Linked DNA regions of Homo sapiens: all the other regions are linked to region 6. A link means that fine-mapping ties the variant in region 6 to the expression of a gene that starts in the linked region. Tissue or cell type: whole blood. Region 6 holds a variant in brackets; each other region holds the start of a gene. Each region is shown on its reference strand, or each on the opposite one.

Region 1 (4,076 bases), not on the chromosome of region 6:
AATGGTGCTCTCTCTTGCTCAGCCCTTTAGCCCTGCAGACCTAGGACAGGGCATGACTTGGGAAGGCTCCTGTGCACAGGGTGCACTGGAGGAGGTGCCCCAGGCCCTGGGCCATGGAGATAATTGTGTATCTGCTTCTCTTTTACCTTTTGGGTGGGTAGCCTCTCCTTTTTTAAGGGACACTGACTTCAACCATGTCTACTAATCCCTCAGTATGGCTCCCTGGGCACTCAAGAGCAACAGTTCCAGGCAGGGACCCCCACATCCTACTCTAATTACTACTGCAGACACAGAGGAGACCAATTCCATTCCTTCCCTGGCCTCTTGGATTCTTTGTTTACTCACCTCTTTCCAGTGACCACGTCTCCCACTTCCCCTTCCCCAGCAATACTCCCCTGTCATCCTCACCTCTCCCCTCCCCCCAGCTCATTTCCCAGAACCCACCATCCATTTATCTTCTCTACTTTATACAACACTGCTGGGAGGAAGGGCTCTTCCTCAGTGGAGCCCAGGAACCTCCATGAGGAGCCCATTTCTCCCTTCACAACCAAAAAATTGCTTCCTGTAGAATAACAAGCAGAGGGAAAAGGCTGGAAGGAGATATGTTATCGGGGTGTTCTCCAGGGGGTGGGACTGTAGGTGACTGACATGTTTGTTTTTCATACTTTTCTCTAGGTTTTACGTTTTCTATTATGAGCAGATTACTTTTATAATCAGTAAATATTTAGAGGAGAGGTTAAACCACAGCTCTTCGAAGAAGACAGGGCTATGTTTGAATCCTGCCTCCACAGTTAGGAGTCATGCTTCCTTGGAAAAATCTAACTTTCTAAACCTCAGTTGGCACATCTGTGAAATAATACCTACTTCACAGGGTTGTTGCTATGATTAAATATAAAGTGCTGGCTACAGGGCAGGCATTCACAAACTGGCAACTATTACTTAAACTAATAAGAGTTAAAATCGCAACCACCACCACTTGCCCCTAAGTGTTCTCTGCCTCTTGGTACCCAGACATGGGAAAGTCTCACCTATTATAGAACTGGGCTATCCTTCCCTTCCAAAGCCCACTTTTTTTTTCTTTACTATGCCATAAGGTGGCAAAGTCAGTAACCTCGTGTATCATTAGCTGGTTGACTGAATGACTGAAAATACAAGGACTTTGGAATAGTCTTTCTCCAAGTGCAGAGGCAAAAAATAAATAAGCAAACAAATAAATTTCATATACGTATGATCACTGTACTCTTCCAGTGAGGCAGGAGCCAGGGCCTATGCCAGGCGCTTTCATACCGAGTCACCTTTACAGCAAACCCCTCGGGCGCTGGGCACTTGCAGTACCCAGGTTTCCGCGTGGGCGCTGACAAATTGCAGACACTTCCTTTCCTCGCCAGCAGGGCTCTCTCGCGGTCACTTCACCCAGCCCCTTCCGAGCGAGAAGGCCTTGGGGGCCGGGACAACCCCTCCCCAGAACCACCCTGACTAGGCTCTTTGCAGCCAGCATCACTACCGAGCTAACCAATATGGACCAGCCTGCGCTGCACAGGGCGCTTAGGCGATCGTTGGAGGGTCATGAGGATCAGCCTGTCCGCCCACCGACGGCGGCGCAGTGGGATGGGGAACGGGGTGGGGGCCGAAAGACGGGAGGAAGGAGTCGCTGCAGTGTCTCCAGGCGATGGTTGCCAGCGTCTCACTGGGGAGGAAGTTCCTCCTGTCATCCAACCCGCAGTTCCCCTCTTGCAGAGCCCTGCCGAGCTCCCAGTCCAGCCTAGGCTGTCTAACGGATGGGCGCTCAGACGCCCCCGCGAGTTGAGGAGCATTTTTCCTAGGGCTTCCAAGTCGGGCGGGCGCCTTCCACCATCCACCACCCACGTCTCGGCAAGGACCCCTTTTCTTTCTGCTCCTAGGTCTTCCGCATCCACTTCCATCCCTCTCTCGCCCTCCAGGGCTTTCTCAGGCGCCTCTCGCAGCGGACCCCGCCAAGTGCCCCTCCCCCGGGCCCTCTAACTTACGGTGCAGCAGTCCATGCTGGTGTCGGGGGGTCCTCTGCGGGGACGAAGGCTGGCGCAGGGCGGGGGTGGGGTCTGTGTGGTGCCGGGTGGGGGCTCTGGGGCAGTCGGCCGCCAGCCGACCCGCGCCGAAACAGCAGCTCTGCTCTCGGGTCCGGTCTCCCGCGCTCGGCTCCGCTCGCGAATGTAACCTGAGCCCCGCGGCCGGGAAGCCAATCAGGAGCAGCCTCCGGCAGGGTGGGCGGGGAGAAGTGGAGGGAGGGCCACGCCCTCTCGCGGCTCTCTGCGCCGCGCTCCCGCTCCTGCCCCAGCCCCTCCGCCTACACGCTTGTATCCAAGCCTCCTACACACTCCATCCTCCCGGGCGCAATCCCCTGGCTTGCTAGGCGGCAGACTGCCAGGCAGATGTACGCCGGAGTAGGCAGAAGGAGGCCCCCGACACCCCGAGCACAAACACCCACATCTGGGCACAGCACCTACTCCCGCTCAGAGAAAACCACGCACCCCTCACCCATCCCTCCATACTTCCACAACCTAGCAGGAGTCCCAAATATGGCTCCCTTTCACTTCACTCCCCCTCAGTCCGCAAAGAAAGGCTCCCTAACGGGCGGTAAAAAGGTCTCATCATCACTCCTGCTACAGACGGAGAAACCTGTTGGTACAACCTGGCGATGGGCATGCGTCCACACAAAAGCTCACAAGCCCCACATGTCCACATATGATTTTCCCAGGCCTTCTTCCAGCATACAGACACTGCAGATACAACCTGCAAAAATAACTACGCAGCCCTTCAGTTGCAGGTAAATGCGGACACCCTGTTGCGGGCGCCCGCGCGCTCACGCACGCACACGGACAGTCACCCAACTCAAGCTGTCGGCATGACGTATCTATTATCGATCTGTCTACATGAGCTGCAACAAACAACATCATATATGCACAACACCTATTTTGTATGTATTTATATATGGGCACAGACTTGGAAGAAGTATCCTCCTCCCTTTCATACCAGACTCTGCCTAACCTTTTGATCTGCTGCCTCAGAATAAGACAAAAGCTGGCCATCCTCGCCCTTGCTCCTGAGAAGAAGAAAAATACCCTAAACCCAAGTGTAGAGAATTCGAAGTAATTGGCTCTTGGGTCCATGATGAGGCAGGATGTGGGCTTCGTGAGAGGCTGGGAAGGGGAGCTATGGAAAGAGCATCTGGGAGGGACAGACTGCCACTGTTGTGGTCGTCAGCCTCCCCCAACTCGGCAGGGTACAAAAGCTGGCAGTGTGGCTTGTTATGTGGGTAGGGTAGGCCTTCTCTGAGAAAACTAGAAAGTCTTCTCAGCTAAGGTCCCAGAGAAGGGAAGGAGGAAAGGATGGCTCCTGCTGGGAGCAAAGGTGGGAAATGCCCTGTGGCTCTGGTTGGGACAGCAGATCCTGAGACAGCTCTGCTGTGCATCCCCAGTCCCTGGCCATGACCAGGGACCACGTGGCGGTGACATGCTTCCTTTCCACCTAGATGTTTGGGCCCGAGGCTCTGCTTGCCAAAGGAAAAATGAGTGGGAGAGAAATGCCTGAGTCCATTCAGGGTGGGGATAAGGTTAGCCAGCTTGGGGTCCCAGGCTGAGCTGGATGCTGGCCGGGATTCCAGGGCTTGGGGTGTAGGGGTGTCTCTCCCAGCATGTTTGGGACCCACCCACTTTTGTAAAAAAAAATCTGTTCCCCAATCTGTCTCTGGCACATCTTTCATCTCCCCACCTCCTCCAAGTGGCCAGATGTCCTGGGAACTCAGGCCCTTGCCTAAATGACACGCACATCTGTGGCCTTCTGTTGTGCCAATTCCTGCTGGACTTCAACTCCAGAATCCAGAGAGGAGAGGAAAGGGGGAAATTGGGGGACAGAGTGGATACCAGGCCTAGACTCTGTGCTTTTCTCTTCCCAAATTAGAGCTGAGGAATTCGGGATTTGGTGAGTTTGCAGTCAAGTCTCCCAAGTTGCTAGGCAACATCCCTCTGCAGACTGCGCTGCCTCTGGGCCCTTCTTCCTGCTGGTCAGAACTGAAGGGGGGGTATCTTTACAACACCCCC
Region 2 (4,076 bases), not on the chromosome of region 6:
GCAGGAGGTGGACAGGAACAGCAAGCAGGAGGCATTAAAGGGCCACAGCAGCCCAGAAGCAGCCCTACCATGGGGGCTGGGGTTAAGGTTAGGGCAGACCCTTCAGAAATGCTGACGAATAAATGAATGAAGAAATACAGGCAAGAGGAGGGAACAACTTCAAGAAATAGCTTTGGCAGGAGTGAAGCGTGGGAACACAGGGCCACTCCAACAGTAAAGCCGGAGACAGCGTCACGGGGGGGTGTCTGACCACCTCCATCCATTCCACACAACTCTTCACAACCCACAGCTCTGCTACAGCTCTTCTCCTTGGTGACGCAACATCTTCGCCTCCTCTGTCCCTGCCACTGTCTGGTGGTCCAGCTTCAGAGTCTGCACAGCCCTTCCTCGGACAGTGCACGTCCCCTGGCCCATAGCCTTTGTGCAGAAGGCTGGCATTACCATCCCCACCTCGCCATCCTCAGCAGCCCCATGACCTGCCTTGGCCCAGCTGCTGGTTATGTCCCTCCTGGTCCACTGCCCCACCCCCTCCCTGACCTCGAGCCTGGGTCCCACCCCTCTGGGCCACCACCAGTCTTCCAAGGGCAAGCCCACCATCTCCACCCCTCAGTAGCCCCTTCAGAACAAAGTCCAAGCTCCTGGGCAAGGCCTGGCTGGCCCTTCACCGTCTGGGTCCTTCAGGCCCGTCTCTCTCCACCCTGCCCCATCTCAGTACTCCAGGGCTCAGTTCCCACGTGGCACAGAGTAGCTCTGACCACCTGGCCTGGGATACGTCATGCTCTGGGTCTGGAACACCTTCCCCTCTGTCTCCACGCCTGCTAAGAGGTCACCTACTCCTGGGAAGCCCTCCTTTTCTGACACTGCCTCCCTAAGGATGGGTGATCCAGGCTCCAGGCTTCCCTAGTTAATGCTGCCCAGGTCCTCCTTGTCCTTGGATTCAGGGTGCCAGGAGCACCCTGAGAAGCACCCAAAGGGCCAGCCACCCTCTCACCAACTCCTGCATCTCCCACACCACACGCCGCCGGCGGTAGCTAATACAAGTTTCCTTAAAGAGCTCATGAACTTGAAATCAATTCTCTACTTGGGTTACTGCCCCGGAGGCAGGCCAGGGGTCCCTCCCTGAGGCAGTCTGATGGAGGAGTAGGTGTGACCCCTGACCTTGCAAGGAAGAGCCTCTCCTGGATTCTCCACCCCTGCCCTGCCCTGCCCTCCCCACATGCCCCACCACCACGGGGTCCCCGCGGCTCTCACAGGGGCGGGCACCACCTCTGGGGTCTCCAGCTTTCTTACTTTACTCGAAGCGTGTTCACGACCACAGATTCCGCCACCCTCTCAACACGCCTGTCTGGTGGGTGTCAGGCAGTGTTTGTCCCCTTCATGCGTGAGGAGACGAAGGCTCAGAGCGTGAAGCCCGCTCCAAGGTCAGAGAGGGAGTCGCAGCAGAGGCGGGGTCGAGGCTGTGACTCGCGGTGGCCCCCGGTTCCCTCCCACCCCACCCCACGAACCGGCGTCTGGCCGCCCTGAAATGAATGACTCCGCCGCGTCCCGGCGCCGCGCTCCCAGCGCTCCCCTCCGGGACAGCGGCCAAGGTGACTCTGACCGCCTCCGGGTCGCGGGTCGGGCCTGGGCAGGGGTCCCTGGGCCAGGAGAGGGAGGCCGCTCCGCGCTTACCCTCCAAGGCCGCCTTCCAGCTGGTGCTGCCCTCGTAGCCCGACCCGGATCGCCGCAGCAGCCCCTCGGGGCCGCGGGCCTCAGCCTCTGCGGGCGAACGCGGCCTGGGGGCGGCGGGGGCGGGCGCGGGGCGCGCGGCGAGGGGCGGCGGCGGCCGGGCCCGCGAGGGGGGCTCCCGGGCCGGCTCCATGCGGGGCGCTCCGCCGCGCCGCGCCCGCGCTCCTGCACCGGGGTGCGGGGCCCAGCCCGACGCGCACTCGGCGCTCCGCGCGCCCTGCGGGCCCCCCAGGCCGGCCTCGGGTGGGCTAGGACCGCGGCGCTGGCAGGCCGGGGCTGAGCCCGGCTCCCCGCGCTGGAGCCTCTGCGCCGGGTGCCGCCGCGGTGCGCTCAGCGCCTGCCCCGCCGAGCCGCAGCCTCCACGCACAGCCGGGCTGGGGAGGAGCGCGAGGCGGCGCGCGGGAGCCGGGAGCCGTGGACCCGGGCGGGGCGGGGCAGGGGCGGAGAGGGAGGAGGCGCGGAGGAGCGGGGACAGCCGGCTCCCCGACCCCGCCACCTGGGCTGGAGGCTGGATGCTGTCGAGCTGGGAGCGCAGTCTTGGAGCCGGGAGACCTGGTTCTAACTCAGCTCCATCTCCCCAGCCGCCTGCTCACCATCTGTGAAAATGGGAATAAAGTTCGCGGGGACAGTGCAGGGAGGCTCAGGGAAGATGAGCGCCTTTCTTCCCGGCTGCCCTGGAGCCACAGCAGAGGGTGGTAGGGGCTGTGACTTGACCCCCAAACTCTTGATAAAGGAGAGAAACGTCCGAACGATGAGCACAGAGACAGTAGAGTCTAAAGGAGCAAGCGAAGTGACGTTGCAGATTCAATTAACATTTATTGAGCACCTACTAAGCGCCAGGGACTTTCACATATTATTAGCTGACAATGCCCCCAGGTGAGGCTGAGAAGTGGAATTTTGAGGTCAAGGACATTTCCGAAGGCGGCGCCAGGCAGGTGCGTGCTTGGCGGGTGTCTGACTCCCAGGCCAGGGCTCCCTCCGGAGCCTTCACTGGCCCCTTGCCTCAGCTGACCTCGCGTCGCCTGAAGCCCCACGCCTCCAGCCCTGATCCTCTTCCCCCTCCACCATTCTCAGCCCCAACCTCTGGTTCCTGTCTCCATCTTCAGTTCCTCATCCCCAGCTCCTCCTGCTCCCTCCCCCAAATCCAATAGGCCACTGACTCTTGTGAATTCTCCCTTTTAAAATATTTTTATTTTTATTTTTTGAGACAGGGTCTCGTTCTGTAGCCCAGGCTGGAGTGCAGTGTCACTACAGCCTCGGCCTCCCAGGCTCAAGCGATCCTCCCACCTGGGTCTCCCAAAGTTCTAGGATTGCAGGCGTGAGCTGCCGTGCCCGGCCCCTTTTTTTTTTTTTTTTTTTTTTTGAGACGGAGTCTCGCTCTGTCGCCCAGGCTGGAGTGCAGTGGCGGGATCTCGGCTCACTGCAAGCTCCGCCTCCCGGGTTCACGCCATTCTCCTGCCTCAGCCTCCCAAGTAGCTGGGACTACAGGCGCCCGCCACTACGCCCGGCTAATTTTTTTGTATTTTTAGTAGAGACGGGGTTTCACCGTTTTAGCCGGGATGGTCTCGATCTCCTGACCTCGTGATCCGCCCGCCTCGGCCTCCCAAAGTGCTGGGATTACAGGCGTGAGCCACCGCGCCCGGCCGCCCGGCCCCTTTTAAACTCTTAGTCTGCGCATTGCACTCCATCCCTCTAGCCACTGGCCAAGTACAAGCCAATGCCTTCTCTTGCCCGACCACAGCAGCAGCCTTCTAAGGGGTCTCCCATCCTCCACTCTTGCTCCCTCCTATCCAGCCCCTCCCCCTCCACACCCGCAGCATCTACCTAAAGTGCAAACTCACCACTCCTTCAGGGGTCCCTTTACCTGTGGATTAAGGCCATCTTTTTACAAGGCCTCAAGGTCCCTCATGGTCAAAGTCCTGCTCCTACCTAAGGCATCCTCTCCTCCCACCCCTTCTCTGCCAGCCCTAGACACACCTAACTATTCTGACTCTTTCCTCTGGGCCTTTGAACACTGTCTTCCTTCTGCCTGGAACACATCTCCTCCTTGGTCCTTCTAACCCCTCCTTGTAGCCCCCATGCACCCTAGTTTGCCTACCAAATTTCTGCTAATGCTTCTGATTGCACAGTCTCTAGGATACTGCATTCATTCAGAGTAGGTTCAACAAGACTACAACAGAAAACCCCAGTAAGAGTTTAACTAGAAAGAAGGTTTTTGTTTTTTGTTTTTTGGTTTTTTGTGTTTTTTTTACCTGAAAGAAGTCTAGAGGTGATCAGCCCAGGGCTGGATTGAGAGCTCCAAGATCATCAGGGACCCTAGCTCTTCCTCTCATTCTGCTCCCATCATC
Region 3 (4,000 bases), not on the chromosome of region 6:
AGACCACCAGGAAGATGATGATGGCACTGACACAGCGCAGGAAGTCCTGGGGGCCAGGGGTGCAGGGTTAACAGGACCTCAGAAGGCAGGGGGCGTTACCCTGAAGTTTTCCAGGCTAGCCAGCAGCCCGACCCTGAGGGATTCTGAACCCCTCCATAGGATACCCCTCACACAATATGAAGCACATTCAAGAGACAGAGCGCTCACACTGCTACCCAGGGAGTGGAAGCAGATGAACCAGAGCAACCAGGACCAGAAGCCAGGCGCTGGGGCTGGAACCCAGGGGACAGCGGCTGGAGTATGCCAGCCCGGGGGGGTCAAGCCAGGCCAGGGCTGGGGCTGGACCTTTGCTGAGTGGGAGAGTAGATCTAGCGGATGTGGTCCTCCTGATTGCCCGTGGCCCTGCAGCTGTGAAATCAGTGTGAGTCAAAGCACACCTTTGAGTGCAGGGCATAGCATGGGACAAAGCCCAGCTGTGGTGTGGAAATGGAAAGAAGCTCGGGGAGGAAAGGAAAATGCATCATTTAGAGGAGAGGGAAGGGCCCCAAACTGGGCTAGGGGTCAGGGTTCCTCACCAGACAGGGCCAGTTAATTCGGTCGAAGCGCTGGTAGTACTGGGTGGCATAGAGGAAGAGGAAGGCAAGTGTGATGAAGAACTCCAGTAGCGCCGCGGCCATGTAGGCAGAGATGGAGGCCGTGAAGCAGATGAAGATGATGAGGGTCAGGGCCTGCAGGACCGAGCATGTGGAACATGCCAAGAAGGGGACACAGGCAGGGGCCAGGGCTTTGCCTTCCCCTCCTTGGAAGCTCCCCTAGGCTGGCACCTACTACCTGTCCTTGGAGGGGAGGAAGGACTCTGGCACATCTCCCTATCCCCTGGTGTCAGGAGCCACCGTTGCAGGGCATTTGCCGGTCAAGGGCAGTCTCCGGCCTCCCACTCTGCTCACCCAGCAACCCCAGCAGTCTGGCCAAGCCATATGGCTCCCAGGAGCACTATCCCACAGTAATTCATAGGTACAGTGTGAATGCCAGCCCCTGGAGTTGTGCCCACAGAGACCCGACTCCACAGGGACCAAGAGGAGCCCCCTGCCTCATAATGCTTTCCCCACCCCCAGATGCCTGAAAGCCCCCTGACAAGGACCAGAGCCTTTGATTCCATGCCAAGAGAGAAGGCAGATGCTGCCCAGTGGTTTCTGGGAGCCCCTTTAGCTCTGATGACCTAGGGTGGCATACGTGCAGAGGCCTTAACTCTACACTGTGGTCTTGCTAAGTAACCAGGGGAAGATCCTTTCCTGAGAAGAGATGTTTCTGGGCAGCAGACCACAGATAAAGTGCAGTTGCAGGAAGTCTGCCCTTTTTGATAGTTAGACTTCTTGGACGTGCTGAGAAGTGGCCATGTTAGAGGCTGTCATTGCCCCTGTCCCATCCCTATGTCTCAAGCTTCCTCAATGTCCCAAAAAGTCACCCTGTCTAACTGCAGTCCTTCCTGCTGCAACTGAAACCTGCTGTAAATGTCTCCGGGTGGAGAGGCAGCAAGAAGGCAGAGTAGGAGACGAAGAAGGGGCAGCTGCGGGCAGGAGAGGTGTCCAGAGGGCTTGGGGAAGGAGGCTACTGAAGGGTGAGCTGGGGGCTGGCATAAGGCTGGCCAGGAGCCGGGGGTCAGGGAGATGGAGGCACCAGGTTGGGAGGCAGCTGTTACCAGCTCGGTTTCCAGCAGGATGCCCTTGTGGGAGGTGAGGAAGGCCTTGTCCACCGCGAAGCCCTGGAGCTCTGCAACTACCCCCTCCTCAGGGTGCCGGTCCCGGCGATCTCGAGCACTGAGCATCTTCGTAGGGCCCACCAACACAGCCCCCTACTGCCAAAAGCCCAGCAAGAGAAACAGAAATCTGGCAGGATGGGGAAACAGACAGGAGCAAGAAGGCACTTCGAGAAACCTGAAAGTGAAGCAGGAGGCTTGCCCACAGGGCCCCGGGAGAGAAGGCAGGCGCTGGGGGCCTTGCCCAGATGGGCCCTCACCCAGCTGCCCAGAGTGCCTCTGCTGCTGCCTGCACCAGCCCCCTAGAGACCCATGGGGAGGGGCAGAGAGGAAGGAGGCTCTAATCCCTCCCCTTGCTTAGAGCCCAACCCAGCCTGGAATAGAGAAGGAAGGGGAGAGGAGGAGGTCCGAAAAGAAACTGGGAGGAGCTGGGATGTGAGTAGAGGAACAGGGGCAGGACTGGGAGCCCCCAGGGACCTAAGCCTGAAGACATTTGTGTCCCCCTTCTCTAACCTTAACCCTCTTGTTTGGCCGGTCCTTTCTCCCATTTCCTTTTAGGGAGGGTGTGAGCTGGAGCCCAGCCCAGGCAGCACCCCCAGGACCAAGCTGCAGCAGCCAGGACTGGAGGACAAAGGCGGATTGTTGGGGGACAAGGGGGCGCTCTGTGCCTGCTGCAATGCCTCAATGGGCCTCTGTCTCTCCAGCATGCCGGGAGCGCGGCCTAGCCCCCACCCTGGTGTTTGGGATGGGCCAGGGAGACAGAGATGGGAGAGGACGGGAGGGTGCAGCGGAAACTCTGGAGGGCGGAGAGAGCTGGCAGGGTGGACAGAGGTGAGGGCCAATGGTGGAAAGGAGAAGGGACAGGCTGGGAGACCGCGAGATGTTCAGGCACCACGGATGCCAAATACAGATTAGGCCATTTTTAAATAAAGATATTTATTTGGATAAATCTCTATACATTCAATAACAGCTTCCTCCTCAGAATCATCCATGTCAAAAGACTAGTAACTACACTAGAATGCACCCAAAGTAGATGCTCACTGAGTGATGAGTAAACAAACAAATAAAACCAGGGGCTCTTTCTTCTCCAGCAAGGGGGAAATATCTAGAAAGTGCCTGTGCTGGGCCAGGGTAGCAGGGGATGGGAAAAGAGGAAGAGACAGGAGTGGTGGCCTCCAGAAATGGGCAGAACTTTGAAAACCTTTCCTGAGAGAAAATGACAGGACACCAGCTTCCGGCGGCCCTAAGCAGCAGCTGCTCTTTTCAAAATGTGCAGAAGTGCAGGCTTTCCCCAAAGCCCCCCATCCTGTCCCGGGATCCTGCTGCTCCAGACAGCACTTCACAGGGGCCAAGCATCTGGGCATCCTGGCCCTTCATGGCAAGTGGTTGTACACCTGGCTCCAGGTTTCCCAAAAAGGGACCAGCCTCCAGCAGGTCCGGCTAGCCCATCACACGGGGCCGCACACACACACAAGCTAAGGAAACACGGTACAGCCTGCGCTCCAGGCAGTAGCCCTTGTGGGTGCCCTTCTCGCCATGGCATGGCCGCCGGTAGAAGACAGTCTGGTTGTGGTAGAGCAGCTCCGAGTTGCCCCGGGGGTCCATGTGGGAGCCTGTCTGTAGGCTGACGCAGTGCGGGCACAGGCAACGGGCGTGGTACAGGTCCTGGGGGAGCCGGTTCAAGTCTCTGTCCAACCTGTGGGGGCGGCACTTGTCAGGCCTTGGAAAGATGGGCCGGAAACAGAGAGGGTGGGGTGGCATGGGAGTGCCAGAAGAAGGAAATGGTCCGTCTGGGGCCTTGGCCTCTTGTCTCAGTTCTGAACCCACTTGCTGTGTAACTTTGAACAAGTCACCTCCCTCCTTTATTAAATTTTCCCCACTGTAAATGAGGGTAGCAGGTGACAGAGTGCTTTCCAACTGGTCCTGGGACCGTGAGGGAGGCAGGGGAGGGTGAGCAGGCTCCTGCCTTAGCCTCCATTGACCAGCACTGCTTCTATCTGACTCAGCATGAGGTTTCTTATTGTAATGATTACACTTTAGGTGTTTTTGTTTGTTTTTTGATTTTTTGTTTTTGTTTTTTTGAGACGGAGTACCCAAGCTGGAGTGCAGTGGCACGATCTTGGCTCAACTGCAACCTCTACCTCCTGGGTTCGAGCGATTCTCCTGATGCCCGCCACCATACCCAGCTAATTTTCATATTTTTAGTAGAGATGGGGTTTCATGATGTTGGCCATGGTTGGCCAG
Region 4 (4,076 bases), not on the chromosome of region 6:
TCTCCAGATACCATGGAACCGTGTGGATCCTCTCCTGCCCTCATTGCCAGTTGGACATAGAGAAGGGTTTATCAGTCTGCCTTTTATTCAAAGTCTTAGATCCCCAGGCTCCTGGCTGACTTGCACTGTTGGAACTAAGCAAAAGAGATTCCAAGAAGATCCCACAAGGATCTCGTGTTAGTCCATTTTGTGCTGCTAGTACAGAATACCTAAGGGGGGTAATTTACATTGAAGAGAAATTTATTGTATCATGGTTCTAGAGTCTGCAAATTCCAAGATGAGATGTTGGCATCTGGCAAAGGCCTTCCCAATATGTCATCCCATGGCAGAAGGGCAATGAGGGTTAGAAGGAGCAAGAGGTCAAATTTGCTGTCTCAGGCCCTTTTTATAGTGGCATTAATCCATTCATGAGGATGGAGCCCTTGGAACCTAAACATGCCCCAACATTGTTGCATTGAGGATTGAATTTCCAACACGTGAACTTTGGGGGACACATTCAAACCGTAGCAGATCCTCTCCATTCATCCTACCTCACCTGGCACGTAATTCACTTGCAGGCTAGGTGGGGAGACAAGAGTATCCACAGCCAAGAAGCCCACAGCTTCAGGGACCTGTGAACAGAAGTGGACCAGATAGGGGATGGCAAGGAGGAGGTCAGCACAAACTGTCTGCAGGGTGAGGTAGCTTCATTCTCTGCAGTGGGGACATGAGGTAGGGATCGGGGTTCAGGCACAGGGTCTGACTGTTTTATACCAAAGCAGGACAGATGGAAGTCAGAGGTGGACAAAGACTTTTCCTGTCACCTGTGACTCAGTCACAGAAGTGCCCAAATTGTCTTCTGGTCTGAGGACAGCAGAAGCTCAGGATACCTTTCTAGCAGGTAGATACAGGGAATGGTGTGGGATGAGGCAGAGGTTTGCTTCAGGTTCTCATCAAATTCCCCAGATCTGAAGCCAGCCCCTCTCAGGCCTGAACAGAAGCACTTCACCTGTTTATTTCTTGAAAAGCCATTCTATGTTGCTGCTTCCCACTTTTAGTTCTCAGAGGTGGCTTTCCTACTGTCCAGAAGACATAAACTTCTGTTTTCCCTGGAGTCACCTTAGCTTAAACTCCTATAATCTTGTTGAATCATCCCTGTGTTTGGCTAAACCAGGCTCCTCATACCCACGTTCCAGGGTCACACAGGTAACTTGGCTTGCTGCTTCTGGGGGCTCTGAATCCCACAATGCCGATCCACCACCTCTTCCCTGCTGCCACTAGTCTCCTGGGGTCTAGCCTCAACAGCTTCCACCAAGGACACACTGCATTGCTTAAGAGTGTATTTAAGGTGCGGCATTTGTGATGCTAGGGAGGAGCCTTCCTGACTTAATCACGTAGGGGGAGTGGGGAAAGAAGTGGGTATTTGGAAGGAGGGTGAGGTGGGCTGGGAATGCCAAGAAATGGTAGTACTGTGTGGTGAATCAAAGTGGGTCTTGGAATCTTCCTAGCTTTTCTTTTCTTTTCTTTTCTTTTTTTTTCTTTCTGACTTTTTATCTTATGTTGTCACTCACCATGTTTTGTTTTCCTCATCTGCAAAATGGATTGTTGTAAGCTTGAACAGGAATCATGCATAAAGTACTGAGCACAGTGCCTGGTACCTTGAAATCACTCAATGGAAGTTTCTTATTATTTGCCCTACACCCAAGGAGTAATTGGGGCCCTGAAGGAAGACACCCCAATTTGCCGTCCTCCCAGCCGCCAAGCCTGATAGTGCACTAGGGAGGCTGATGGGAAAATACCGTGCAGAAGGCTGAGGAGTGGGGATTCTGGGGCGGGACTCTTTGAAGTCCTAGGTGACCTCTCCGCCCAGGCACCCGCCCTCCCCGGGCCTGGGCTGCAGAGCTGCGGGCGGGGGCGGTGGCCCTGCGCTGCACCCGGCCTGCCTGCGCGTAGGCGGGCGGGCGGGGCTGCGCGTCCGGGCTCCCGGGGCTGGTAATATAGCGGCTCGCCGAGGCGCTGGTGCACGGGGGCAGCGCGCAGCAGGCCGGCGGGCAGGCGGGCGGGCTGGCTGGCAGGCAGGACTGGGATCGAGGCCCAGAAAACGGAGCAGCGGGCACCAGGGAGGCCTGGAACGGGGCGAGCGCCATGAGCAACAAATGCGACGTGGTCGTGGTGGGGGGCGGCATCTCAGGTTAGTCGCGGCTGTGCGCCCTCCTTCCTCTTCACGCGCTCGGACAGGTGGCTGCCTGGGGGAGACGCGGGGGGCGGCCGTGGGGCAGGGGCTGACCCTGGAGTCCCCAGACTGTCCACGCACGGGCAGGGCTCTAGTGGGTCCAGAGCGCCGTGCACTGAACCCTCCTTTGGGGGCAATTTTGGGTGCGTTCCCGGACGCAGAGGCCAGAGGCTGGAAGCCTGTTGCAGCTCTGGGGCCAGACTTTGAACTTCTCCCCCAGAAGGCTGCTAGGCCTTCGCTTGCTGGAATTTTCGAAGCCAGGGAAAAGGGGTGGGGAGGTGGCACAAAGGTCAGTCATTTGCTCCAACTTGACCTGGACACTCCGCACCCTCGCTTAGAGCAAGCATGCACCACATCGTATTGTTGTCCTGGCGTCAGGAAAACGACCTTGAACAGAAGAGGTTGGAGCCTGGCCAATCGATTGCCAAAGACTTTCCAGGCCCTCCTGATTCTTTGAGGTTCTGTGATTGTCACGGATCTAACTTGAGGCTGCAGTGTCTTTTTGGCAAATGCCTGTTTTCCTCTTATGCCTCTCGCACCCCCACTCCACCCCACCCCACTCCTAGCGCAGGGTGGCCAAGCTGCAGCTTTGCTCTCTGGCCTAGCCCATATTTGGCAAGGATGGGGACAGACACTACCCCCTCAGCCACACGGGGCTGTGTACATACCAAGGGCACCGAAAAATAGAAGCCAGAAGAAGGGATGGGGGTAGTGGTGGAACTTACCCTCTGTGGAGGATCAGGCAGATCCTATGGGATAGGGTCAATGGGAATCAATGATGCTCTCAGCACAGCCTGTTTAATGGCCCCCTGGGCATGCTTTGGCCCACCTCCTAACGCTGCCTAGTACTTGAGCAGTAATTAGGACACCTCCAGACCCGTGGATGCATTGTCTAAGACTTGCCTTAAGGAGTTCTCAAGTGGCCTTTGGGAAGTAGAGGTTGGCCTTGCTCCCTGCCAGGAGGGCAGGACAGAGTTGTTCTGACTCTCCTGTGGCTGGAGAAAAAACCAAGGCATTGGATGTTTGGTGCTGACCATGGTCCAGTCCTCCTGCCTCTGCTCCAGCCTTTCTCCCCTTTGGGTGGGATCTCAGGCTACCACATCTGTCTAGCAGGCTCTGGTGAGCTCGCCCATGCCAGGCCCTGTGCCTGGTGTTGCAGGTACATAGATGCGTAATCACAACATGCTGAGGTTGGCCAAGGCTGTGTATAAATTCAGTTTTCTTTCAGTATTTTTGACATCTTCTCTCCTAGAGGAAGTTGGACTTAAAAGCATACCTACTTAGGTGTTTTAGAAAATATTACTAAGTGCCTCTTGATGCTGCCTTGCATAGCACCCCATCTTACAGAAGCTGAAGTTTCTCTTTTCAGGCCCCCGAAGTCATTTTCTCACTAAAGTATGCCCAATGGATTCAGATTTTTCTATTTTCCCTTCATGATTTGTCCCTTTCTGATTCATACTCCACACCTTCAGGTTCAATCACATTACTCATGTTAGACTCATCTGGAAAAGGTAGATAAGGGTTTAACTATTTTTGCAAGCAGTGGTGAAACCTCTGCATTCATCCTCCCGAACTCTGATCAAAACAAGGTACTGATGAGTAGATCTGACTTTTCTCAAGAACATTCCACGGAATAGGCATTGTTCTAAGAACCAAGAAAGCAGCCTTCCAAGGCCCAGTCTTACTCAATTGCTTCATCTGCTACATGGGGATAACACCAGTTAGTCACTGCTGGATTACAGGGCAAGTGAAACAATGTGAGTAAAATAGCTTTGCAGAGTCTGAAATATGGCACAAGCCCCTCAAGAGTTTTACCCATTTATTCAGACAATAGGAATTGAGGGAGGCTGTGTAGGGGATTCAA
Region 5 (4,073 bases), not on the chromosome of region 6:
TTTCACATCTTAAACCTCACCTGCCACGCCTTCACCTGTCCTCAAAAGATTCTACATTTGCTTTTTTTTTTTTAAACCTCATCTTTCTGGATTTACTATCATAATCTGTATCTATGGACTTATTCTGGGTCTTTTCTGCATTTACACTCACCTGTCTCAAAGTCATAGATTTGATGTTCCATCCCTACTGCCCTCACTCATCTCTGGATTCATCTCTCTTTTACTCATTACCCATGGTTAAAAATTCACTATTTGGGCCGGGCGTGGTGGCTCAAGCCTGTAATCCCAGCACTTTGAGAGGCCAAGGAGGGCGGATCACGAGGTCAGGAGATCGAGACCATCCTGGCTAATACGGTGAAACTCCATCTCTACTAAAAAAAATATAAAAAATTAGCCGGGTGTGGTGGGGGGTGCCTGTAGTCCCAGCTACTCGGGAGGCTGAGGCAGGAGAATGGCGTGAACCCAGGAGGTGGAGGTTGCAGTGAGCCAAGATCGCACCACTGCACTCCAGCCTGGGCAACAAAGCAAGACTCCATCTCAAAAAAAAAAAAAAAAAAAATTCACTATTTGCCATCCTCATTCCTCCTCGTCTCCTGCGGGCCAGTGTGCTTCTTGTCTTTCACGGGTGTCTTCCGTGTTATTCCAACCAAACCAGCTCTCCAGCATCCTATGTTTTCTTCCCTTAGCTGTCTGCTCTCACGGGTCACCCACCCCCTCCTGTTCCATGTGGTCCCCTCACCTGACTTCTGAGTCACCTTTACATCTCCTTCCTACTTTCACTTTGCTTCTCTGTTTTCCTGGATCGCTGCAACTCCCACTTTCTGTCTTTGCCTTCTTGGAAGATGGGATCTCCAGATCACTTACTCCCTGCCTCCAGCCTCACACGCAGCCTCTCTTAGCCTGTGTAAAACTTTGGGAATTCATAACTCCTTCCCGTTTTCTGTCCAGCACCCTGGGATCCCTACATTTCACCTGCCCTGGGCCCATACATCCTCTAAGTCTGCTCCGACCGTCCTTAACTCTGCCCTCCTAGCCCCGCAGCAGTTCCCGAGACCTTGTGCCTCCTTCCCCGACGCCGCCTGCTCACCGGTGCCCTCGGGCAGGCTCAGGATGTCCTCGCCCTGCACCCAGCGGTAGCACGGGAAGGCCACCTCCGCGCAGGCTCCAGGGCCCTGCACCGTGATGCGGTCGCAGAACCACGCGTCGTCCACCAGCCAGTGGTGCTTGCGCAGCCTCACGAACTGCAGGAGCCCCAAGTCCTCTGCAACGTCATGATCAAACTCCTCCTCCTGTGCAGGCCGGACCCAGGCCAGACTTAGTAGGAGGGACCCGACTGAGGCCGTTTCGAGGACAGAGCCGCGCTCCTGTGCAACCTCAGTTTCTCAGGGCCTCCAAAGACAGCATCGCCTCGTTCCCGCCCCCGCACAACCTGCTCTTTGGGTCTCAGACGCCCGGAGTCGGGTGGAGGACGAGGGCCCGCAGCGCCTGGAGCTGATGCTGGAGCAGCATCGCCCACGTGGGTCCCATTAACTGAGCTCTCCCCGCGCCGGTTCTTGGAGGAGCTTCACGTCTGACCTCTGGCCTCATACTTACATTGGCTCTGGGTCACTGGGAGAAGGAGCTGGGGGCTGCCGGGACCAGGGGCGGGAAAGGGAGATGGGGTTGAGCCCAGCCCGGGATCCCAGCTGCGGACCCTGTCCCTAATCTTGCCCACCTCGTCCCAGCTTCGTGGAAGTCCCAGTCCGCGAGGTCGCGCTGTCACCTCGCCCCCAGCCTCCCGCCCTCCCGCCGCGAGCCCAGCTCGGCCCGGGCCTGGGCCCGGGGTCCCCGCTGCCCTAGCTCCCCTCGCTCCCCGCGCTGACCTCGCCCCGCGCGGGCCGCAGCTGCAGCTCCAGCTCCGCCTCCCCGCGCGTCCCGACCAGCCAAAGCTGCACGCGGTTGTACGACCCGGAGAAGAGCCAGGCCCCGGTGGCCACGCGGATGCGGTAGCGGCCCATGGCGCCCCCCAGCAGCTTAGGCGAGGGGAGCCGGGTCCTGTGCGATTCCCGGGACCGCCCAGGGCTGCCGGCGCCTCGGGGCCACTTCCAACCTTTAAAGGACCGGTCTGCGGCCCCGCCCTCCTCGCAAGTTTTAGGCGCTCCCAAGTCCCCGCCCCAGACTAGCCCAAACCTGCGAGCAGAGCGGTAGAGCCGGCTGTGGGGACTGGCTGTGCCTCCTGGTCGGAGCGTAGCTGCAGGATGATAAAGGGGCCCGAGCCAGGGTGAGGCCAACGGGGTGGGTGCGGCGGGACCTTCCTGGACCTCCCGGGAAGGCGGGATCGAGGTGGGCCTGAGCCCCCGGGTTGGAGCGAACATAGATGAGAACACTTCCCGAGGTCTCCAGGTCTTCTGGGGAGCCAGGAGGAAGTAGGGGATGAGTCCATCTTCCAAACGGAGGGGAAGGTCTCCGCTTTTCTGGGCTGGGACCCGGGGAAGGCAGTGGGCCGGCTTCTGGAAGGTCGGCCTGGGAGGCCGTGCTGGGGTCTGGGGATGTCCCGCGGCTAGACCCGGCGCGGCCCATGTGTCCTCCAGTACCTGAGCTCTGCCGCCCTTGAACGCTGTGCTTCCGTCAACGACCAGGGGTTCCCCAGGGTACCTAGAACCTGGAAATGTAGCAGCTCAACACCCGCTCCCCACCCCGTTTCAAATATCTGGGCGCTGGGGTCCCAATGTACACCAAATATCATGGGCCAGACCTTTGAGAGAGGCCTGAGGCAGGGCAGTGAAAAACTCATTTTGTCCAACCTCCGAAGCGGGTACAGACAATGTTAGGGACCCAGGAACACCAGTCGGGGTGTTAGGGTGCGGGATGGAATTGCTTAGGGACCTGGCCTACGTGGCCAGTTCCCAAGAACTTTGTCTTTTCCAGGTGAGTGCAGCCCCTTCCGCTCCAGTAGGTTCCAGATTAATTTTTTATCCCCAAGCTCTTTCCTGCTCCTTCATGGGTCTCAGGTCTCCTGGAAATCCAGGAACAGCAATTAGCCCACTGCTATTTAGGGCCTTTGTAAACATTGAAGGATGATTCGGAGCTTAGGCTTTCTCTCCCGTGTCAGGAATCAGTCAGATGAAGCCTGCTGCACGCGTCCCTGTCTAGATCTTGATTCAAGTGATTATATGCATTTGGATCTCCGTGGATGCATCTGGTGGCCTGGGCTAGGCCAGTGTAAGTTAAATCTGCTTTCTTGAGCCAGTCCTCAGAAATGACTTGGTGGCCTAGTTGTTGGTAGAGGTAAGTGAGTGGGAGTTTTAGCCCCGCCTTCCAGCCTCCAGATCAGACTCTATCTCAAAAATAAATAAATAAATAAATAAAAATAAAAAAATAAAGTGTCTGTCCCTTACTGGATTCAATTCCCTTTCTTATCTTCTAGGTCCACTCTGGCCTACATCCTCTGCTCAGGACTGCAGGTCGGCCATTTGCTGGTCCCCAGTTCTTCCAGTTTTCTGGGGTCACCCCATTCTGTAATATCCAAATAAAATGGCTCAAATTCCCATCCTGCCTAATAGTAGGATCTGGCCTTTCCACACACATTTTCGTGGGTTACTTTTGCCTAGAAAAGAGTTTGTCTCATACCTACTTCCAAAAGCACTGTTTCTTTGCTGTTTTGTGACTTATTTTCTGCCCACTCTAGTGTACTCTACGGCCACGTGCAGAGAGAGGGAATGAATAATTGAAAAACCGGATTCAAGCTACTGCGCATGCTAAATGAGTGAATATGGCTAAACAGTGAGAACAGTGCTTGGCGTGTAGTCCCTCTATGTATTAGCTGCTATGATTGTATTATTTACAACTGAATGTTAGCGTTGCTCCTCTACCGTTCCTCTCCGCATGCTATTTCTCCATGTCCCTCTCTAGGCCTAGCCTCTCACTAGAGCTCTTATCACTCTAGACCCTTCCCCCTCCTGCTTTTGTTTCCCTTTTAAGCACATGCGCTATGTTGGGAGAATATAATTAGAAGCAAAATTTTCTCCCAACCCAGAAAAAACCTCTCCACGAAAGTAGTGAAGAAAGAAAACAGTTTTATTATTGAATAAGCA
Region 6 (4,076 bases):
AGTAGAGTTTCAGAATTTTCAAGATAGAAGGGAACTGAGGGTCACCCAGTTCTGTTTGGTAACAAATGTGTTCCACTTCTTCCCCTAGCCAGAGTCCCAGGACAGAGGGTTAGCTCATTATGTCTTTGGCTCCTCTTTTATCCCTAACCTCTCGGGTATAAAATGTAAGTGATTAATGTTCCACAAGACTTGGACTGAAAAACTTTAATCCAGTACATTCTGTTTGATCAAAACAGGGTCCAGGAAAGTTAAATGACTTGTCCATAGCTGCCACAGTCTGTGGGTAAACAGGGACCAAAACCCAAGGCCACTTGATCCCCCATGCGTGGCCTTCCTATAAAGCCACTTGCCCATGGTGTGGACATGATTGCCCTGTGGGTACGGGGCATGCTGGGGCCAATGACACGCTATCTTTGGGGAAGGGTGTAGCTTTGTGGTTAAGACCATCAACGTTCTGGCAGACTAAGTAAGTTCTGGCATGGCTATTTAGTAGCTGTGTGATCTTGAGCAAGTTACTTATCTTCTCTGAGCCTCCATGCCCTCATTTATACAACAGGGCAGTACCCTCTTCAGCAGGTTGTGAGGATTCAGTAAGGTAATATATGTCACATGCTTGTCACAGGTCTGGCATAAGGCAAATGGCACCTAACATTATTTTCTAGCTTTTCAGCACTCAGGTGTGAACTTCCCAAGTCATAATGGTTCTTTCTGTTCCAGCTGAAGTTAACTCAAACCTGTCTTTATTACTCCATTTGTTGAAAGAGAATCTGATATGGAACTTTTTGCTTGGATGATGTGCCACACATGTAGTCTACTGTTAGAAATTGTTTAAAAATCTGAGTTTCAGAGCTGTCTTTCCAACTGGTTGGTTGGTTCCTGGGTTTTGAAGAGATTCGTTCCTCCTCCAGACTTATCTCCTCGCTCTGTTTGGGACCATAATAAACCTAGCTACTGTTTATGAAATTATTACTATGTGGTAGCCCCTTAACCAGGTTTCTCTCTAATCTTCACCTCCACCCTTTGAAGTAGGTGCTATTTGGTCCTGATTGCAGATGAGGAAACTGAAGTTCTGAGAGACTGAGTAACTTGCTTGATGGTTGATATTTTGGTGGTTCTCCCTCGTGGAAGGTGGAAGAGCACACTGTGCTCTGTAGTTTTCTGGATGTGAGATTATGTCTAGGGTGACTCTAGCACTTGGGGTTGACACCTGACAAGGACTTGAGTGAGCATCCAACCCCCTGATTGATCAGCAGGGGAAGCTGGTGAGCAAAAACGTCACAGGACTGGACCCAAGTCAGCACTGCTTCTCATTCAGTGTTCTTTCAGTCATATCATATAGGCTCAAATCCTTGACCCTTGCATCATAGGCTCTGGCCTCAGGACTCCCTGGTTTGTGACTGGCCTGTGAATTAACGTTCCGCTTCAGAATTGGAACTTGAGGTTCTAGAAGCAAGGTGCTTGCATTTGAACTCCAGCTCTGCTGCTTACTAGCTGTGTGACTTTGGGCAAGTTGCTTGAACTCTCTGTGCCTCAGTTTCTCCTACTATAGAAGTACTCATTTCATAGGATTGTTGTAAGGATTACTTGAGATACTTCATTAAAGTCAAAGCACAGTGCCTGGCAGAGAGCAAACACCTCTTCGGCTCTCAGCATCATTTACTGAGCTCTCATCACTTGCCAGGCATCTTTTGGCAATGGGGATGTAGCCTTGTACAAGCGATTCATGATTCTTTTGGAGCGTACAATCTAGTAGGGGAAACAGATGCTAGAGAATAATGAAGATTATGATTTATTAAGTAATTCTAGTGCTATTTGTTATTTATGGGGCACTATTTAGAAGTTGCTGCAAGGTATCTTTGTTTTTAGTTCTAATTCTTATAAATGGACAACATTAATGTAAGTAAGTATTTTGGGTAAGAAGTTTGGCCAGGGTTGCACAGAACCCTCAGCTTTGAGAAGCCTGTGGTTTAGCATCTCATGCCAGCAACCATCTAGATGTGTATTTTTGTTTTGTTTTTTAGAGACAGAGTCTTGCTCTGTCACTCAGGCTGGAGTGTAGTGGTACAATCATAGCTCACTGTAACCTCCAACTCCTGGGCTCAAGCCATCCTCTTGCCTCAGCTTCTAAAGTAGTTAGGACTATAGGAATGCACCATCATGCCCTCCTAAATTTTTACATTTTGTGTACAGACAGGATCTCACTATGTTGGTCAGCCTGGTCTTGAGTTTCTGGCCTCAAGTGATCCTCTTGCCTCAGCTTCCCAAAGTACTGGGATTATAGACATCAGCCACCAAGCCCAGTCAGTCATCTGTGTTATATCCAGAACAGAATTAGGTATGGCCCTACCACTTAGATGCAAGCAGCCCACCCTTGAAGGGCAGAAGGGAAGCTGTGACTGGGCAGAATCCACAAGGCAGCAAGACTTGGTCCACTGAAGGAACAGATAGCTCTCATAGTCATAACAGGCCTGTAGGAAGAAGACAGTGTAGGAACCAAATGCTGTTGTAAAGAT[A/G]ACACAGGCACTATGTAACCGAGTACCTATTTTTAAGTGACAGTGGTATATTTTAGGCCAGTTCTATCCCATTTGTAGTCTGTCTCCATTTTCCCTCAGTAATTCTTTTCTCATAGTTGATCTTTCCTCTGTTTCAACCTCTTGTTTGCTTTGCCATTTGATATTAAAAGAATCTATATGCATATGCATTTCTTGACAAATGAGTACATTGAGCTTAATTTTCTGATGAGCCTTCATAAAATATTACCATGCTGAACCAACCCAAAATGTGGGCTGCCTATACCAAACATGCTAATTTTAGACAGGGTGCTTTCATCAGTACATAAGATATGAATTTTTATTTGAAAGCTTTCCTGAAATTAAATAGCATAAAATCAAGATAATACTCCATATACACTTCAGTCTTTGCTGTTTAATAGAATCACAGAAGCATACACATTTATGTTTAAATCACCTTGTTATATGGTTCAAGAATCTATGTCTCAGAGAGATCACTTGACTTGCCCAAGACCACAGACTTAATGGTAGGGCCAGATTGTATACCATGTCTTCTTTTTTTTTTTTTTTTAATTTTTTTAGAGGTGGGGTCTCGCTCTGTTGCCCAAGCTGGAATGCAGTGGCACGATCATAGCTCACTGCAGCCTCAAACTCTTAGGCTCAAGCAATCACCCTGCCTCAGCCTCCTGAGTAGCTGTCACCATAGGCATATGCCACTGTGCCTGGCTAATTGTTATAATAATAATTGTTATTATTATTGTAGAGATGAGGTCTTACTTTGTGGCCCAGGCTAGTCTCAGACTCCTGGGCTCTAGTGATCCTCCCACCTTGGCCTCCCAAAGTGTTGGGATTATAGGTGTAAGCCACTGCACCTGGCCCATGTCTTCTAATTTAGGTCAGTTCACTCTTCACTCTGCTGCTTCTTTTATATATGTGCAACAGTCATATCCTTTTTTGAAATTATAAGATTAAATCAAAGAATTAATGTCTTTGGAAGCAAGGAGTGTTGGAAAAGTTCTCCAAATTCCACCTTTTTTCCTTAATTCATTTAAAAAAAAAGGGAGAAGGATGATTTATTTACCGGAAGGGTTAATAATAGCATGACGTGCTAACTGTATGCTTAGAAATCTGACATACATATTATCTTATTGGATTATTCATGTGTTTTTAACTCATTAAAACCTTGAAACTCTCATATCCCCATTTTATAGATGCTTAAACTGATGTTTGTCATCATTAAGTAAACTGTCCAAAGTCATATAGTTGGCAAGTGAAAACTTGGTATTTGAACCCAGGCTTCTCATTCTAAAGCAGAGGTGTCCAATCTTTTGGCTTCCGTGGGCCACAGTGGAAGAAGAATTGTCTTGGGCCACACATAAAATACACTAACACTAACAATAGCTGATGAGCTTAAAAAAAATCGCAAAAAAAAGTCTCATAACGTTTTACGAAAGTTTACAAATTTATGTTGGGCCACATTCAAAGCCATCCTGGGATGCATGCAGCCTGTGGGCCATGGGTTGGAAAAGCTTGTTCTAGAGCTTGTATTCTATGTTCTTCCAGAAA
Region 7 (4,068 bases), not on the chromosome of region 6:
ACAAGTTACAAGGGCTTTATATAATAGAAAAGCTTAAAATAAGGCAGAAAAACTCCTCATACCAGAGTTGTCTTCTTTTTCATTGGAGGGTACAATACCGAAGTTAAAATCATTAGCTACAGATTACAGCATACAGGCTAAATGTCTACATACAAAACAATCAATAAAACTTTTTGTTTCAGCTAAACTTAGAAATAAATCATTGTCCTATTTAGTGTCAGTAGGTTCTACAGTAATTAGTACATCAATCATTTGAGGAACTCGTAATAAAATACTTTACTCAGAGATAGAATGTCACCATCAAGTCACGAAACCTTTCCAGGGCGAGTTAATTTGGAAGTCTGCTTACTTCTAAAGTAAACTGTCAAATGTGGTCTGTAGGTTATCGCATTTAAAAACAGGACCTGAGAACTTGAGTAGACATAGTAGATAACTATTAAACAATAGGGAAAATTGGCTTGAAAACAAAAACATGATTTAAAAAATTACTATATTCATCTTTTTGATAGAGAGTAATTTTGAACATTTAGTATTTTAAGCATTTCTTCTAAAATTTAAGGATATGAAAAGTAAGAAAAGAATATGGAAAATTTAAATAATATTCTGTGAGACTTATACATAGTTGTAAAAGGAAGAAAACTTGTTGCCAGTGCCACTTACATCTGCCTCTTCTTTATTGACAATCTTCCAAATAAATTTAAATAGCATAGTTGCTTTGGGTCCTGTCGAGTTTGGCCTGGAATTGTAGGTGATTAGAAAGGATAGGGAAGCTTTCATGTGATACGTATTCATTGATTTATTAATTATTTAAGACCTACTTTATATTGAAGTATCCTACATGTTATAGGATACATGAGACATTCAAACAAACACAGGACATGCCACTCCCTACAAAAGTGCATGGTTCAATTGAGGAAGGAAGTCTTACAGATGGGACAGAGAACCAGAAAATAACATAAAGCCAACATGTAATGTGTAGGTCCACCTCTCTATCTTTGTAGGGATATAGCATTTCAGACCAAAACCTTTAATTTGGGTCTGAGAATTCAGGAACAAATATTTTCCTTGGTAAGGACATTTCTTGCACAATTTCTAATAGTGCAAAATTGGAAACACCGTGAAGGGCACCAACAAGGCAAGGTTGAGTAACTATTGTTCTTATCACAGGACGTCACATGGTCATTAAGAAGAATGGGGGAAAACTACATTAAGATGACCTGAAAAGATAAGGAACACATATTTTTTGAAGGATAAAAGTCAGCTGTATAGTGATCCATATACAATACTTCTATGTATATGTGTACCTCTATGTCTTAAACGTGTCTCATTGTATACATATACATGTGTGCATATAAGTGCAGACAGAATTGAAAACTAATGCAAAATTGTTACCAGTGTTTACCACTGAATAGTAGGAATGTGGAGAAATGATGAAGAGAAATTTGTGTTTTATTTCAAAGACATCTGCAGCATACGAATCTTTTGCAATAAATTATATAATTTTTCTGTTAAATTAAAAATAAAAAGAAAAATAAATATGCTGGGTCCTACTTTTTAGGTATTCTTAGGTGGTAGAAACAAGTAGCTTCTTTTGTAATATAAAGGAGGATGAGTTTCATTTGTAGTTTCTAGATGAAATTACAAAAGATAATATAGATTGAAGGCAGAAAGAATCCAATAAGCTAAAATCCAAAGACAACCTTTGACGGTAATTGGCTCTTATTTTACTTACATGCTCCAAACCAATCCCAATATTTATCAACATTCATGAAAAGAACATTTGCTTTCTTTGGCAAGCAAAGATAACTTTCTCTTTCAAGGGCCACATGTTTGTGCCTTCAGGTGCTCCTAAAGTTTCTATTAAGCCTAAAAACTGCAGTATAGAAAAGGCAGGGCGTATTGTTATAAATCATACAAAGAAAATGCATGTAGTATTTCAGTCTAGTTCTTACCTTCCTGAACGGAGTTCTTACACAGGTGTAAGGAAGATAAGTATTGAGAAAGGGAGAGTGGGAATGTGAAGTGATGCACATTAAGCAAGTTAGTAGGAATTTGACCTGTCTGGTCTTTCTCTGGGTTGGGCACAGCTTCAAATGCTTATGTGTGTATCACCACATACCCTCACTTCCTCCTTTCCTACCTCTTCCTTCTTACTGGCTTTGAGAAAGAGCATATAAATGACATCTTCAGGGCATGAGAAGCCACTTATCTGCAGACTTGTAGGCAGCAACTCACCCTCACTCAGAGGTCTTCTGGTTCTGGAAACAACTCTAGCTCAGCCTTCTCCACCATGAGCCTCAGACTTGATACCACCCCTTCCTGTAACAGTGCGAGACCACTTCATGCCTTGCAGGTGCTGCTGCTTCTGTCATTGCTGCTGACTGCTCTGGCTTCCTCCACCAAAGGACAAACTAAGAGAAACTTGGCGAAAGGCAAAGGTAGAGGCCCTGCTTCTCTGCACTTGTTGCTGCTTCTGCTACACCTGTCTCTGGGGTAAAGACTAGCTTGGTGCCTTTGGGGCTGGAGAGGGCCATTATACCAATAACTCCAATTGGAGGAGACACACAGGGGGGTCACTTCTCACTTCTTGTGTGCTGGGCAATCTTCTGGGCACTTTACTAAAGCGTTACAGATCATATTCACAATGGCTTTATGAGAGAGGTACAATTGCCCTCAATCTGCAAATAAGAGACCTGAGGAAAATATTCATGACCACCAATAGGTCACATTTTCTACCCTAGAGGAAAGTCTAGACAGTGACTTGTATGCTGAACTCCGCTGCATGTGTATAAAGACAACCTCTGGAATTCATCCCAAAAACATCCAAAGTTTGGAAGTGATCGGGAAAGGAACCCATTGCAACCAAGTCGAAGTGATGTAAGTTGCTGTTTCTGTGCTATTGCCTTATCAGAGAAACCCTCTACCTCCATCCACATATGCACTCGTTTCCTCCAGTCTCATGGATTAGTTCTGATATTCAGATCAGGACACCCACAGATAACCCTGTTCTCTTTTGCAGAGCCACACTGAAGGATGGGAGGAAAATCTGCCTGGACCCAGATGCTCCCAGAATCAAGAAAATTGTACAGAAAAAATTGGCAGGTGATGAATCTGCTGATTAATTTGTTCTGTTTCTGCCAAACTTCTTTAACTCCCAGGAAGGGTAGAATTTTGAAACCTTGATTTTCTAGAGTTCTCATTTATTCAGGATACCTATTCTTACTGTATTAAAATTTGGATATGTGTTTCATTCTGTCTCAAAAATCACATTTTATTCTGAGAAGGTTGGTTAAAAGATGGCAGAAAGAAGATGAAAATAAATAAGCCTGGTTTCAACCCTCTAATTCTTGCCTAAACATTGGACTGTACTTTGCATTTTTTTCTTTAAAAATTTCTATTCTAACACAACTTGGTTGATTTTTCCTGGTCTACTTTATGGTTATTAGACATACTCATGGGTATTATTAGATTTCATAATGGTCAATGATAATAGGAATTACATGGAGCCCAACAGAGAATATTTGCTCAATACATTTTTGTTAATATATTTAGGAACTTAATGGAGTCTCTCAGTGTCTTAGTCCTAGGATGTCTTATTTAAAATACTCCCTGAAAGTTTATTCTGATGTTTATTTTAGCCATCAAACACTAAAATAATAAATTGGTGAATATGAATCTTATAAACTGTGGTTAGCTGGTTTAAAGTGAATATATTTGCCACTAGTAGAACAAAAATAGATGATGAAAATGAATTAACATATCTACATAGTTATAATTCTATCATTAGAATGAGCCTTATAAATAAGTACAATATAGGACTTCAACCTTACTAGACTCCTAATTCTAAATTCTACTTTTTTCATCAACAGAACTTTCATTCATTTTTTAAACCCTAAAACTTATACCCACACTATTCTTACAAAAATATTCACATGAAATAAAAATTTGCTATTGACTTGTTGTCATCTATTATTAATTTTAACAGGATTGTTGGGGAAAAAAAGCTTTAATTTTCCTCTCTTTTTTGTATACTTGGTATTTCACAGTTTGAACAACAAAAGTTACTAA

Evidence for each region. PIP is the estimated chance that this variant, and not a neighbour inherited with it, causes the effect.
Region 1: it holds the start of NRGN, and the variant in region 6 is fine-mapped to the expression of NRGN in whole blood (TOPMed, PIP above 0.99).
Region 2: CLEC2L starts here. The variant in region 6 is fine-mapped to the expression of CLEC2L in whole blood (TOPMed, PIP above 0.99).
Region 3: CMTM5 starts here. The variant in region 6 is fine-mapped to the expression of CMTM5 in whole blood (TOPMed, PIP above 0.99).
Region 4: MAOB starts here. The variant in region 6 is fine-mapped to the expression of MAOB in whole blood (TOPMed, PIP above 0.99).
Region 5: it holds the start of ALOX12, and the variant in region 6 is fine-mapped to the expression of ALOX12 in whole blood (TOPMed, PIP above 0.99).
Region 7: PPBP starts here. The variant in region 6 is fine-mapped to the expression of PPBP in whole blood (TOPMed, PIP above 0.99).

The regions. Positions count from the first base shown.
Region 1 is chr11:124,738,030-124,742,105 of GRCh38, reverse strand. NRGN (neurogranin) reads right to left here and starts at 2,164. Exons shown (of 4, transcript NM_006176.3): 1 at 2,007-2,164. The coding sequence starts at 2,021. RefSeq lists silencers at 2,026-2,345, 2,406-2,465.
Region 2 is chr7:139,521,713-139,525,788 of GRCh38, reverse strand. CLEC2L (C-type lectin domain family 2 member L) reads right to left here and starts at 2,104. Exons shown (of 5, transcript NM_001080511.4): 1 at 1,672-2,104. The coding sequence starts at 1,861.
Region 3 is chr14:23,375,077-23,379,076 of GRCh38, reverse strand. It overlaps CMTM5 (CKLF like MARVEL transmembrane domain containing 5), which reads right to left and starts at 2,031. Exons shown (of 6, transcript NM_001288746.2): 1 at 1,700-2,031; 2 at 576-728; 3 at 208-408; 4 at 1-46. The coding sequence starts at 1,825. IL25 (interleukin 25) reads right to left here. Exons shown (of 3, transcript NM_172314.2): 3 at 2,674-3,452. The coding sequence ends at 3,197.
Region 4 is chrX:43,880,348-43,884,423 of GRCh38, reverse strand. It overlaps MAOB (monoamine oxidase B), which reads left to right and starts at 1,974. Exons shown (of 15, transcript NM_000898.5): 1 at 1,974-2,170. The coding sequence starts at 2,125.
Region 5 is chr17:6,994,042-6,998,114 of GRCh38, reverse strand. It overlaps ALOX12 (arachidonate 12-lipoxygenase, 12S type), which reads right to left and starts at 2,066. Exons shown (of 14, transcript NM_000697.3): 1 at 1,863-2,066; 2 at 1,088-1,289. The coding sequence starts at 1,997. All of the region lies in intron 2 of ALOX12-AS1 (ALOX12 antisense RNA 1), which reads left to right.
Region 6 is chr3:56,814,159-56,818,234 of GRCh38, reverse strand. It overlaps a transcript of ARHGEF3 not described here. Among named protein-coding and RNA genes, the nearest start is that of ARHGEF3, 14 kb to the right of the region's middle. The variant A/G (reference allele first, on the strand shown) is at 2,514.
Region 7 is chr4:73,986,326-73,990,393 of GRCh38, reverse strand. PPBP (pro-platelet basic protein) reads left to right here and starts at 2,204. Exons shown (of 3, transcript NM_002704.3): 1 at 2,204-2,438; 2 at 2,742-2,877; 3 at 3,020-3,955. The coding sequence starts at 2,291. The coding sequence ends at 3,122.